3 separate regions of the Homo sapiens genome follow, and regions 2 and 3 are each reported to be linked to region 1. The links are microRNA targets in miRTarBase. Many come from high-throughput screens and were not tested one by one. Region 1 holds a microRNA gene; each other region holds the end of a gene's coding sequence.

What was found. Region 1 holds the annotated microRNA hsa-miR-4757-5p (AGGCCUCUGUGACGUCACGGUGU, at 1,710-1,732, opposite strand). A microRNA usually pairs through its seed, bases 2 to 8, with sites in the 3' UTR of a target mRNA and lowers its output. Matches are read on the target gene's strand: a 7mer-m8 pairs with bases 2 to 8, a 7mer-A1 pairs with bases 2 to 7 and ends in A, and an 8mer does both.
Region 2: the mRNA of VAMP1 is a reported target of hsa-miR-4757-5p. Seed matches in the 3' UTR shown: 7mer-A1 at 2,726-2,732, 7mer-m8 at 2,372-2,378 and 7mer-A1 at 1,502-1,508.
Region 3: the mRNA of CACYBP is a reported target of hsa-miR-4757-5p. Seed matches in the 3' UTR shown: 7mer-A1 at 2,015-2,021.

Annotation. Positions count from the first base shown.
Region 1 is chr2:19,346,917-19,350,170 of GRCh38, reverse strand. MIR4757 (microRNA 4757) reads right to left here and starts at 1,742; the gene lies at 1,666-1,742. It also overlaps a transcript of OSR1 not described here. RefSeq lists enhancers at 1,985-2,114, 2,165-2,434, 2,585-2,644.
Region 2 is chr12:6,461,453-6,464,706 of GRCh38, forward strand. It overlaps VAMP1 (vesicle associated membrane protein 1), which reads right to left. Exons shown (of 5, transcript NM_014231.5): 5 at 785-3,034. The coding sequence ends at 3,018. TAPBPL (TAP binding protein like) reads left to right here. Exons shown (of 7, transcript NM_018009.5): 7 at 582-864. The coding sequence ends at 697. Among named protein-coding and RNA genes, the nearest start is that of VAMP1, 7.6 kb to the right of the region's middle.
Region 3 is chr1:175,009,850-175,013,103 of GRCh38, forward strand. CACYBP (calcyclin binding protein) reads left to right here. Exons shown (of 6, transcript NM_014412.3): 6 at 74-2,178. The coding sequence ends at 230. It overlaps MRPS14 (mitochondrial ribosomal protein S14), which reads right to left. Exons shown (of 3, transcript NM_022100.3): 3 at 3,109-3,254. Among named protein-coding and RNA genes, the nearest start is that of CACYBP, 12 kb to the left of the region's middle. RefSeq lists a silencer at 2,810-3,010.

The DNA of each region.
Region 1 (3,254 bases):
AGGACCCACTGTGGATGAGGGGCAGGGCGCTGCTGAGTCTGGTCTGGTCTGAGGGATCTTCATTAGTTGGGCACTATCCCAATCCTTCTTCCAAGCAGTTCACAAGGTCGCGCGCGGCCCAGGATTATGCCCCCATTCCTGAGAACTGGGGCCTCTGAGTGCGTGGAAGTGGGGCTAGCCAGTAGGTTTGCGGGTGGTGTAGACGGTCTGCGCCCAAGCGGCGCACGCAGGTTGTGGTGTGGTTTGTGCCTGACCATAGCTTGTACTAGGGTCAACTGCAGAATCTTCCTTGGTTTCTTTATGAAGCCCCAGGAGGCTGCGGGCCATGGTTGCTCCAAAACAACCAGAGTGCATGGGTGAACACACACACACACAGGGTGCCCTTCCTAGTCCCTTGGCTCTTTCTGGGATGCTATCCTTGGGGTTGTCTATGGCTGCTCTTCCCTAGCCCCTGACATCCCTCCACCTCCCAGAACACATCATTCCACCTCCCTGAAGATCGAGCCTCTGCAGTTCCCGGGGCCTCAGGAAGCTACAAATGCGGTGAAATGGGGAGGTTTGCCAGCCACGTTAATCCTTTTTGGGTCACCCCACCTCCAGCACTGTGAAAACCCACCCAGTCCAAGGTCTGCAACTGAATGTCAGTATCAAGTGTGCATCCTCAAAATAACAGATTTCCAGTGCAGAATTTTAAATTGGGGATGGGGAATGGAGGGTGGGACAGGATGATGCGCAGCAACTCCCTGGCCCTCTCAGAATGCCCCTATTTGCTCTACTGATGTTTGCTGTTATCCCGGTGGACTCAGAGATCACGTCTCCCTGCAGCTTGTTCTAGTGATTCATAGACTGTGCAGAAACAGTAACTACAGGTGGAAAGGCCGGCTGGGCCTGTGGGCCATCCGACCCTATCCAGGCTACAATTCCCAGGTGATGTGGTTGGTTGATGTGGTTGGAAACTAGTGCCCCAGTTTCCTGCTCATACTCAGTGTGGGTTGCACAAAAAGTGCAATTGAGAGGGTCAGAAATGTTGGGTGGGTTTCCTTGCCTGCCCCAATTTTTCCCCCAATGCATCTCTAGAAAGTCCCAGCTCTTGTCTCCTCTCCAGACCCCCATCACAATAAGCTTCGCTGGTCCCAGTGACTGTGTGGCGCTCAGCGTTGCTGGGGCTATTTTTCAGGAGAAAAAGAGGCCGATGGTGCTGGCCAGGTGGAGTTCAGCTGGGGCCCTTCTCAAAGCTGCTAGGCCTGAAGTTTTTGTGTACGGCTGGGGAAGCTATCTGGCCTAGGACAGCCTCTTGGGCAGGGAGGGCGGAAGGTGCCAGAGACCCTGGGCACAGCCCGGAACTGCCAGATGCTGTCTCCGGTAAGATATCAGGTGCTTCCAGGGAAAAGAACAGCTTGCAGGAGCTTCTTCCTGGGAGAGAGTGTTTCAGGTTCTACCCCCTATTTCCAGAGTGTAGTTAGGGGTTAGGGACCCACTAAAAAATGTTTTCCCGCGTACTTCCTTGCCGCGGAATTCACTGCTCACATTGTGGGGAGGGACGCAATGTGATGCTCTGGGACTCCCTGACGTGACCTCAGCTCCCAGAACCTGAGGACCTGATATCCTAAATCCCCTAGAATCTTGGTGTCCCCATAGCCGGCTCAAAAGAGTCCCGTCCCACCTCTCAGAGCGCGAAGCCTCTGTGACGTCATGGTCTCCTCCCGCAGACACCGTGACGTCACAGAGGCCTCGGGCTGGAACACAAGGCTTGAATGAGGTCCACAGAGGCATTCCATTACGTAACTTCGTGACGTCACAGATGGGCCCCGCCTCGGGCTAACATATCCACACCTCTCAGCCCCGCCCCGCCCCGCCCCGCGAATCGGCCCAGGCAGGCGCCACGAATCGGTTCGTCTCCACTAACACGATCCGCAGACCCGAAGCGTTGGCAGCTGTCCTGAGTGAAGGGCGGTGCCCTGCAGCGTCCTCTTCTTGAATCAGTGGTTTAGAGTGGTCTCCCTGCCCGCGGGGTTTCAGGGCAGCAGTTGCCGCGGCGTACTCATCCCACCCACTTCTGCGCCCACTATGGCCGCGCCCACTGCGGCCCCGCCCTCCTCTCCCACTGCGCAAGCGCCACGCGCAGGCGCAAAAGGAACTCGCAGGCCAGTGCTGCTGGTGCCGGAGTCCGGAAGCTGACGGCGGTGCGTGGAAATCGTCGCGGAGTTCAGTGTTTTGCTTTTGGGGATCACAAACTCAGGGGCACACTGGCCCGGCGGGCGCATCCAGCCGTTGGCGTATGTGTGGGCAGAAAATGCAGACGAGAAAGTGGGTGGCGCTTGGCTAATGCGGGCTGGAGCCCTTGACTTGGAGTGCCCAGTCCAGCGCCGCGGTCCTACAGAGGCCCCTGGGATCTGAGCTGGCGAGGGTGGCGCGGCGGGTCCTACCCAAGGCCAGAAAGTTCGCTGCGGTCCCAGCTCTTTTGGGCAGCCTCTCTGAGGTAGAGCTCTCAGACGGTCTTCAGCCCGGTGGAACGCCCTGGTGTCCCACTCCACCCGTTCATCCCGACTTCCTGGGCCGTCTCTAGAGCCCAGTTGGTAGTTGGGCCCAGTTGGCATATGTTTCAGATGAAAAATTCATTACGGACTTGAGATGCTAGGTTGGAGACAAATCTCATGTCAGTGGCAGAGAAAGAATTCGAAGCTGTGCTTTCATTGAGGGGAAGGGCCAGAAGACCCAGCTCTAGGTTTTTCTGACAAGCACAAGTTTTGGGGAAGTCCCTGTGCTTCACTAGCCTCAGTTTTCTTCCTATAATGGGGGTAGGGCTTTTCCTACCTACCTCATTCACTTTGTGTAGAGTTAAAAGTAATACACATTTTGCCAATAATGTATTCACTGCTTGAACCAAAAACTACCCTAATGTGTTGTAGAACAACTTTGGCATGTATGAAGGCCTTGTAAATGTTGATGATGATGATGCTTAGAAATGCCTCTCAGCATTTTGACGTAGCCTGCCTCCCAACCTACTGTATTCCCAGGAGATACCACCCCCATCTTTATTATAACAGAGGCATCCTGAAATGAAATGAGAGAGGAAGAATATCACTGAACTGGTGGACTTCTTGAAACCCCCGGCAAAAAGCCTTTTTTCAATGACGTAGGGAGCAATGGATTAATCAGTTCACAAATTGTTATGTTTGGTTGGGATGATGTGTCATGGCCCTATGTCAGAGCGCTACTCACCACACGTTTGTGGAACCCAGGGAGTTAAAAAA
Region 2 (3,254 bases), not on the chromosome of region 1:
AATGAGGCATGGGTTGGGGCTGGGCTACCCCTCCCAAACTCAGCTCTGTCAAAATAAAAGGCCCTTGTGTCTGCTGCGACCAAGCTTTTCCACTTTCCTGTCTTTCTCCACACTGGTCCCAACTGAGCCCTGTCACCAAGCCTAGCGGCTCCAACTTGCAAAGTGTTTAAGTATGAAACAAAGGCCCTCAGAGGCACCCCCGTGGCTCCATCTCAGTTGCACCTCAGCTGCAATTAGGGTTCTGCTCCCTCGGGTGACTGCTGGGAGGTTCAGGATACCTGCAAATGCCTCACTCCCTCAGCTGCAAGGAGAGACTTCTCCTTTTTATTCGTTTCTAAAATGTGCCTAATCAATACGGTGGAACTCAGCATACCAAAACTGTACGTGAGGATGATGGGGAAAAGGGGGTAAGGGGGTGTTCACTGACAGCCTTATCTGGGCACATCCCCTGGGACAGGACAAGCAGGCCAAGGACCTAGGAAGGAGCACAGGAGGCAGATGGAAGAGGCCTGAGGGAACCTGTGCTTGTTTGCCAGTGTGAGATGCCCACGCAACTTCCTGTCTTCACTTCCTCTTACCAGCACCTACAGGACTTGGGCTGCTTCAGGCTGAACGCTGGGAGACCACTTCCTGTGCTGACACACAGAGCTCCCATCTCCATGAAGACCGCACAGCGCGTGTAAGCCAGCCCAGCTGACCTAAAGCGACATGAGACTACTAGAAAGAAACGACACCCTTCCCCAAGCCCCCACAGCTACTCCAACCCAAACAACAACCAAGCCAGTTTAATGGTAGGAATTTGTATTTTTTGCCTTTGTTCAGAATACATGACATTGGTAAATATGCCACATGCCTTTGGTGGAAGTACAACTGTTGTTATTACTCTATACAAGTATGAGATCAGGGTTAGGAAAAAAAGACAAAGAGGTGATGACAGACACACAGTGGAAACCCCACATCGTCTCATGGCAAACCGAAGAACGGGATGTGGGAAGCTCAGCTTCATTTGACTGCAAAGTCCCAGGGTTTTGTTGCACATTTGCTCATGCACATGGGTGGTGGGAGGAAAGGGGGATAGCAGAGACACACAGAAGAGGGTACAGGGTGGGTGAGAAAGAAAGTAGAAGGGCTAATACCCCCAAAGAACAAGGCCAACTACACCTGGTGAGCCTCAGAGGGACAGAAACCCAGGAATGATTCCTGTGATAGGGCTGGGAGAGCCAAGAGGACGGATTCGCTCCAGGCTTGGGACACATCGAGGACAGTGGTGGTTCTTCTCCAGCGGTGACCCCCTGCATTAGGCAAGGAGGAGCCCAGAGGAGAGTGGAGACCTTCGAGGGGGGCCGTTGGGAGGGTACTGACTGCTTTCTTCCAGCTCTTCAGTCCCGCCCTTGGGCAGGACGAAGGGAATGTGGGAAACAAGGGCGAAAGGAAAGGAAGGATGGTTTTGAGCAATGAAATGCTGCTGCATGGAAAGTGGGCATCCAGACCCTGCCCAGCATGGCCTCAGCCTCTTCCTGTTCGTGGACCGAGGGAAGAAGGAATAAAGGGCCATGGGCATTCTCCGCTCTGTTCCCAGCCTGCCCTCCTCCCCTTGCACCTGGGCTTATCCCACATTAATAGCCCATCCTGAAGCTCAGCAATTGCCCCGAAGATAGGCTGAGCAGATCCCATCCTCAGGTTCCACTGTCTATACACACAAACCATGCAAAGAGGAGGAAGAGAAAGGAGGCAAAGTAGAATTCAGACAGGAAAGGGTGGTTCAAAGGGGAATATACTACAGGAAGAACAGAGAGGCGGCTCTCAAGGAGAGGGCCCCATGACAGCACAGCAATACACAAGCACACCTGACACAGGCTGGCACGCCTCCCCCCAAGGTGGGGCTGGTGGGTCTACATGACTTCTCTGCATCCTGAGGATCGGCCGGGCCCCAGGAAGAACCACTTGCCTCATCCCTGTCTTTGGCAAGTGCACGGGTGGTGTGGAGGAAAGGATTCCATGGGTGTCCAAAGATCTCACACTGCTAACACCCTCACGCTCCTTCATCAACAGGAAGAGAGGAACAGGACCCTCTTTAACGAGGGCAAGGAGTGGCTTCCTCTGAGCTTGTTACTTTCAAATTAAGCACTTGACTCACTGTTTCTCTATAACTAACAGGCAATCTCTCTCTTTATGCCAACAATTAACTGGGAGCTAGGTTAAATTATTTGGCTAGATAAAACTACCAGCTAGATGGATTTATTTGGTGCCCTCATACAGAATGCTGTAGAAAATGTAAAGAAGAGAAAGCTCCTTCCAGCTAGAAGCACATGGGACTGCTTCTAGGATGGAAACAAGTCCTGCTATTTTCACAATCCCTAAGTGTTCTCCAGGCCTCTGGAGAACAAAGTAAAGTTGTAAGATCCCCAAAGACACGGAAAATCCTGGACGAACAGATTAGAAATAACTACAAAAAACAAGTTTTTACTTTCGAAAAGGGTACTGCACTGAAACCAAGTTGGACTTTGGTCCACCCCCAGGACCCTCTTCAGGCCTGGTCCAGGAAGGAAAGCTCCACATGACCAGGCAGTACTGAGTGAGCTGCCATCTTCCCAGCCCCTCCCTAGCTCCTACCAGTGGCCAGGTTTTCTAGAAGTCACCATGGGCACCGATACTCTTCTCCTCCCAAGTCTGGGCAGCTTCATGGGTACTTCGCCTCAGCCACTCCCCTCCCTGCCCCTTCCCTTGGCCTCCAACTCTTTGGGGCTTTGGGGGAACTTGAGAGTACAGAAAAAGCAGGCAGGGAGGAGGCGCCAGCTGTTGCTCTTCGGGTAATGACTTAGATTGTGCCACGAGCAGCATTTCTAGTGTTGAGGGACAGAGTGCAAATGAACGCAACGAAAAAGGAGGAATGGGTGATGGAGAAGCCTGGGCTGGAATGGAGGACGGTGGGTGGGGAAGTGTGTTGAGAGAGCAAACAGAGGGCAGAGGACATGAATGTGGATGGCAATGGACAACAGGGAAGGGGTGGTACATTCTCAAGTAAAAAAGTAGACTGGACACAGGAATCAGGAAGTCCCAGACGGAAAAGAGAAAGAGACAGGAGAAAACAAGAGGGTGAATTACACCAAGTTACCAGACATTCAGGTCTCTCCATTGTTAAGTGCCCCATCCCCATGGTCTCCCTCCAACCCAAGCCAGTGACACACAGCATAGCCCCACTTCCTCAGAACAGGAGGCGCCATCTCCCTGCAATGCGTTGCAGGGGGAAGGCT
Region 3 (3,254 bases), not on the chromosome of region 1:
TGTTAACAACCTGAATGATAGTATCTTCCGGTGCTTTCGTTTCCCCATTGTTGTATATGTTTTCTTTTTAAAGGAAGCCCTCCTATGACACTGAAACAGATCCTAGTGAGGGATTGATGAATGTTCTAAAGAAAATTTATGAAGATGGAGACGATGATATGAAGCGAACCATTAATAAAGCCTGGGTGGAATCAAGAGAGAAGCAAGCCAAAGGAGACACGGAATTTTGAGACTTTAAAGTCGTTTTGGGAACTGTGATGTGATGTGGAAATACTGATGTTTCCAGTAAGGGAATATTGGTGAGCTGCATATATAAATTTGACAGATAGCTATTTACATAGCCTTCTAAGTAAAGGCAATGAATTCTCCATTTCCTACTGGAGGATTTATTTAAATAAAATATGCTTATTAAACACTCCTGCAAAGATGGTTTTATTAGTACCCTGGTCATTTTGTTCAAGGAAGGGTTATATTGCATTCTCACGTGAAATATAAAAAGCAAGTCTTGCCCAATAAAAACGCTACATTGTGTGTATTTTTTGTTCAGCTAAGAATTGGAAAAGTATTTGCTTGCCTTTTAAGTTACTGACATCAGCTTCCACCAGTGTAAAAATTGAGTAAAACCTGAAGTTTTGCATAAAATGCAAATCGGTGCCTGTGCTTGAAGGTTGCTGTAGAGCATCTGACCCCTTATTACCACCTTAAGCAATGTATATGCCATGCATTACCATGCACTAATTCAATCACAGGTGTTTCTATCTAGATTTAAATATATTTGTCAATGAATGTGGAATAGAAAATCTAAACATGACAATAATAGACATATCTTTGTATGGTACCAGTTAGTTTTGCCGTGGATCAGATGGTTTATAAAAGTAATAACCATAAAGCAAAAAATAATTTGAAAGCCCGTCTATTCCTATGCTCAATAAAGTTAAGTTTTTCTTCATTAGAACAGTTTTATGATTTATTTGTCTAGGAGTATGTCAGAAAAATCAGGCTTTTAGTAGGAATTACTCCTATTCCCCCTGAAGTCAGGACCAGTGCCTGTGATCTCCATTACTTTATTTTCCTGGAGGTATTAGCCAACACAGTTAGATCAGAGAAAGCAATTGAAGCCAGGCATGAAGGCTGGCGCCCGTAATCCCAGCTACTAAGGCTGGAGGATCACTTCAGCCCAGGAGTTTAAGGCTGCAGTGAGCTATGATGATGCCACTGTACTGCAGCTTGGGTAACAGATTGAGAACCTGTCTCATTAAAAAAAAAAAAAAAAAAAAAGCCGTTAGACACACAGGAAAAATCCAGAAGGGTAAACTAAACTAAAGCTACAATTAATATGGGAATTTGGAAGAAGTGGTAGGATTTAAAATACAGAAACAGTTTATGTATAGGATAGCTATAAGTAAATACTGAAACACATTATGCCTCTGTAATTGGGGTTGACACATGAACAGAATAGCAGACACAATGCATATGAAAGTTACAGAATATGGTAAAAGTGGGGTAAAGATGGGTTTTTAATGATACTAAGATAACTGAAAATAGGCATATAGATATATTCCAAGCCGCCTGACGATCTAATTGTAAAAAGTAAAGCATACAAATACTAGAAGAAAATGGAGGAAAACGACATTATATGTGACTTAAAACCTAGAAGAAATAAATAAAACTATTGATCAATTTTAACTACATAAAAATGTTTATAGGACAAGAAAAACCCCACCATAACCCAAGGCAAACAATGTATTGACAGGATTCCAATAATTAAGAATACTTCATACAAAAAGAAATGTAAATGACCTTTAACATGTAAAGATGCTCACCTTGTTCAGAAGAGAATAAACCAGTGTTTTTACCTTTCACTTGAAAAAGAAGTATAAAAACAACTGTATTGAGTTGAGGCTGTGGAGAAATAAGGACACATATATGGGAATGGAATGCAAAAGTTAAACTTTGGTTAACAAGAATATTTGGGCAGGTGCAGTGGCTCACACCTGTAATCCCAACACCTTGGGAGGCCAAGGTGGGCGGATCACTTGAGGTCAGGAGTTCAAGACCATCTGGCCAACATGGTGAAACCCTGTCTCTACTGAAAATAAAAAAAACTAGCTGGGCATGGTGGCAGATGCCTGTAACTCCAGCTACTCGGGAGACTGAAGGACAAGAATCACTTGAACCTGGGAAGCCGAGGGACGAGAATCACTGGAACCCGGGAGGCAGAGGTTGCAGTGAGCTGAGATTGTGCCACTGCACTCCAGCCTGGGTGACAGAGTAAGACTCTTGTCTCAGAAAGAGTATTTGGTAATAACCATCAGAATGACATATTCATTTATCCTTTGACCCAGAATTTTAACTTCTTTCTGGGCTCTGAAAGGTACATTTAGAAAAATTTGGAATGCTATATGCAAAAGATTAAAAATACTCGTGTCTATTTAACAGGAATGTATTATGGTGCATCCACATGAGGGAGTACTTAAGTCACAAAACAATGAAGAGTTCTATATAACGTAAAATGGTCTCCAGGATAGAGTAAGTGGAAAAGCAAAGTGCAGAACATTTATGGTATACCCACTACATTTGTGTAAGAAAGGGTGAGAAATGTGAATGTATGCACATAGGTGTATTTGCTTATGTTTCAAAAAGAAACGAGTAAACCCAAAGCTAATAAAAATTGTTAGCAGGGGAAGGAAGGAGATGAGGATGGAAGCTATTCTGTGAATTTAACTTTTTCTAGAGTTTTGACTTTAGAACCATCTAAAATTTAACATGACTGAAAAAGTAAAACATGACCCTAAACCTATCAACACATTGTCTTAGTCTATTCCTGCTGCTGTAACAAAATGCCATAGACTAAGAATTTATAAATAATATTTACTTCTTGCACTTCTGGAGGCTGGAGAAGTCTAAGATTTGGCACCAGCAGATTGGTGTTTGGTAAGGGCTTGCTTTCTGCTTCCAGTACGGTGCCTTCTCGCAGTATCAGAAGGGTAAAAGGGACAAACTCTCTCCCTCAAGCCCTCTTAGAAAGGCACTGATCCCATCCATGAGTGTGGAGCCCTCCTGGCCTAATCACCCCTAAGGGCCCCACCTCTTAATAATACCAACGCATTGTGGATTAGATTTTAATGTGAATTTTGGAAGTACACAAAATGTTCAAACTATAGCATGTATATATATCAAGTTGGCAGTATAAACTACTTGCAAGTAACTTTAGAACACAAGTGTTTGCCCATTGGTAGTGAGATGGATTCTAA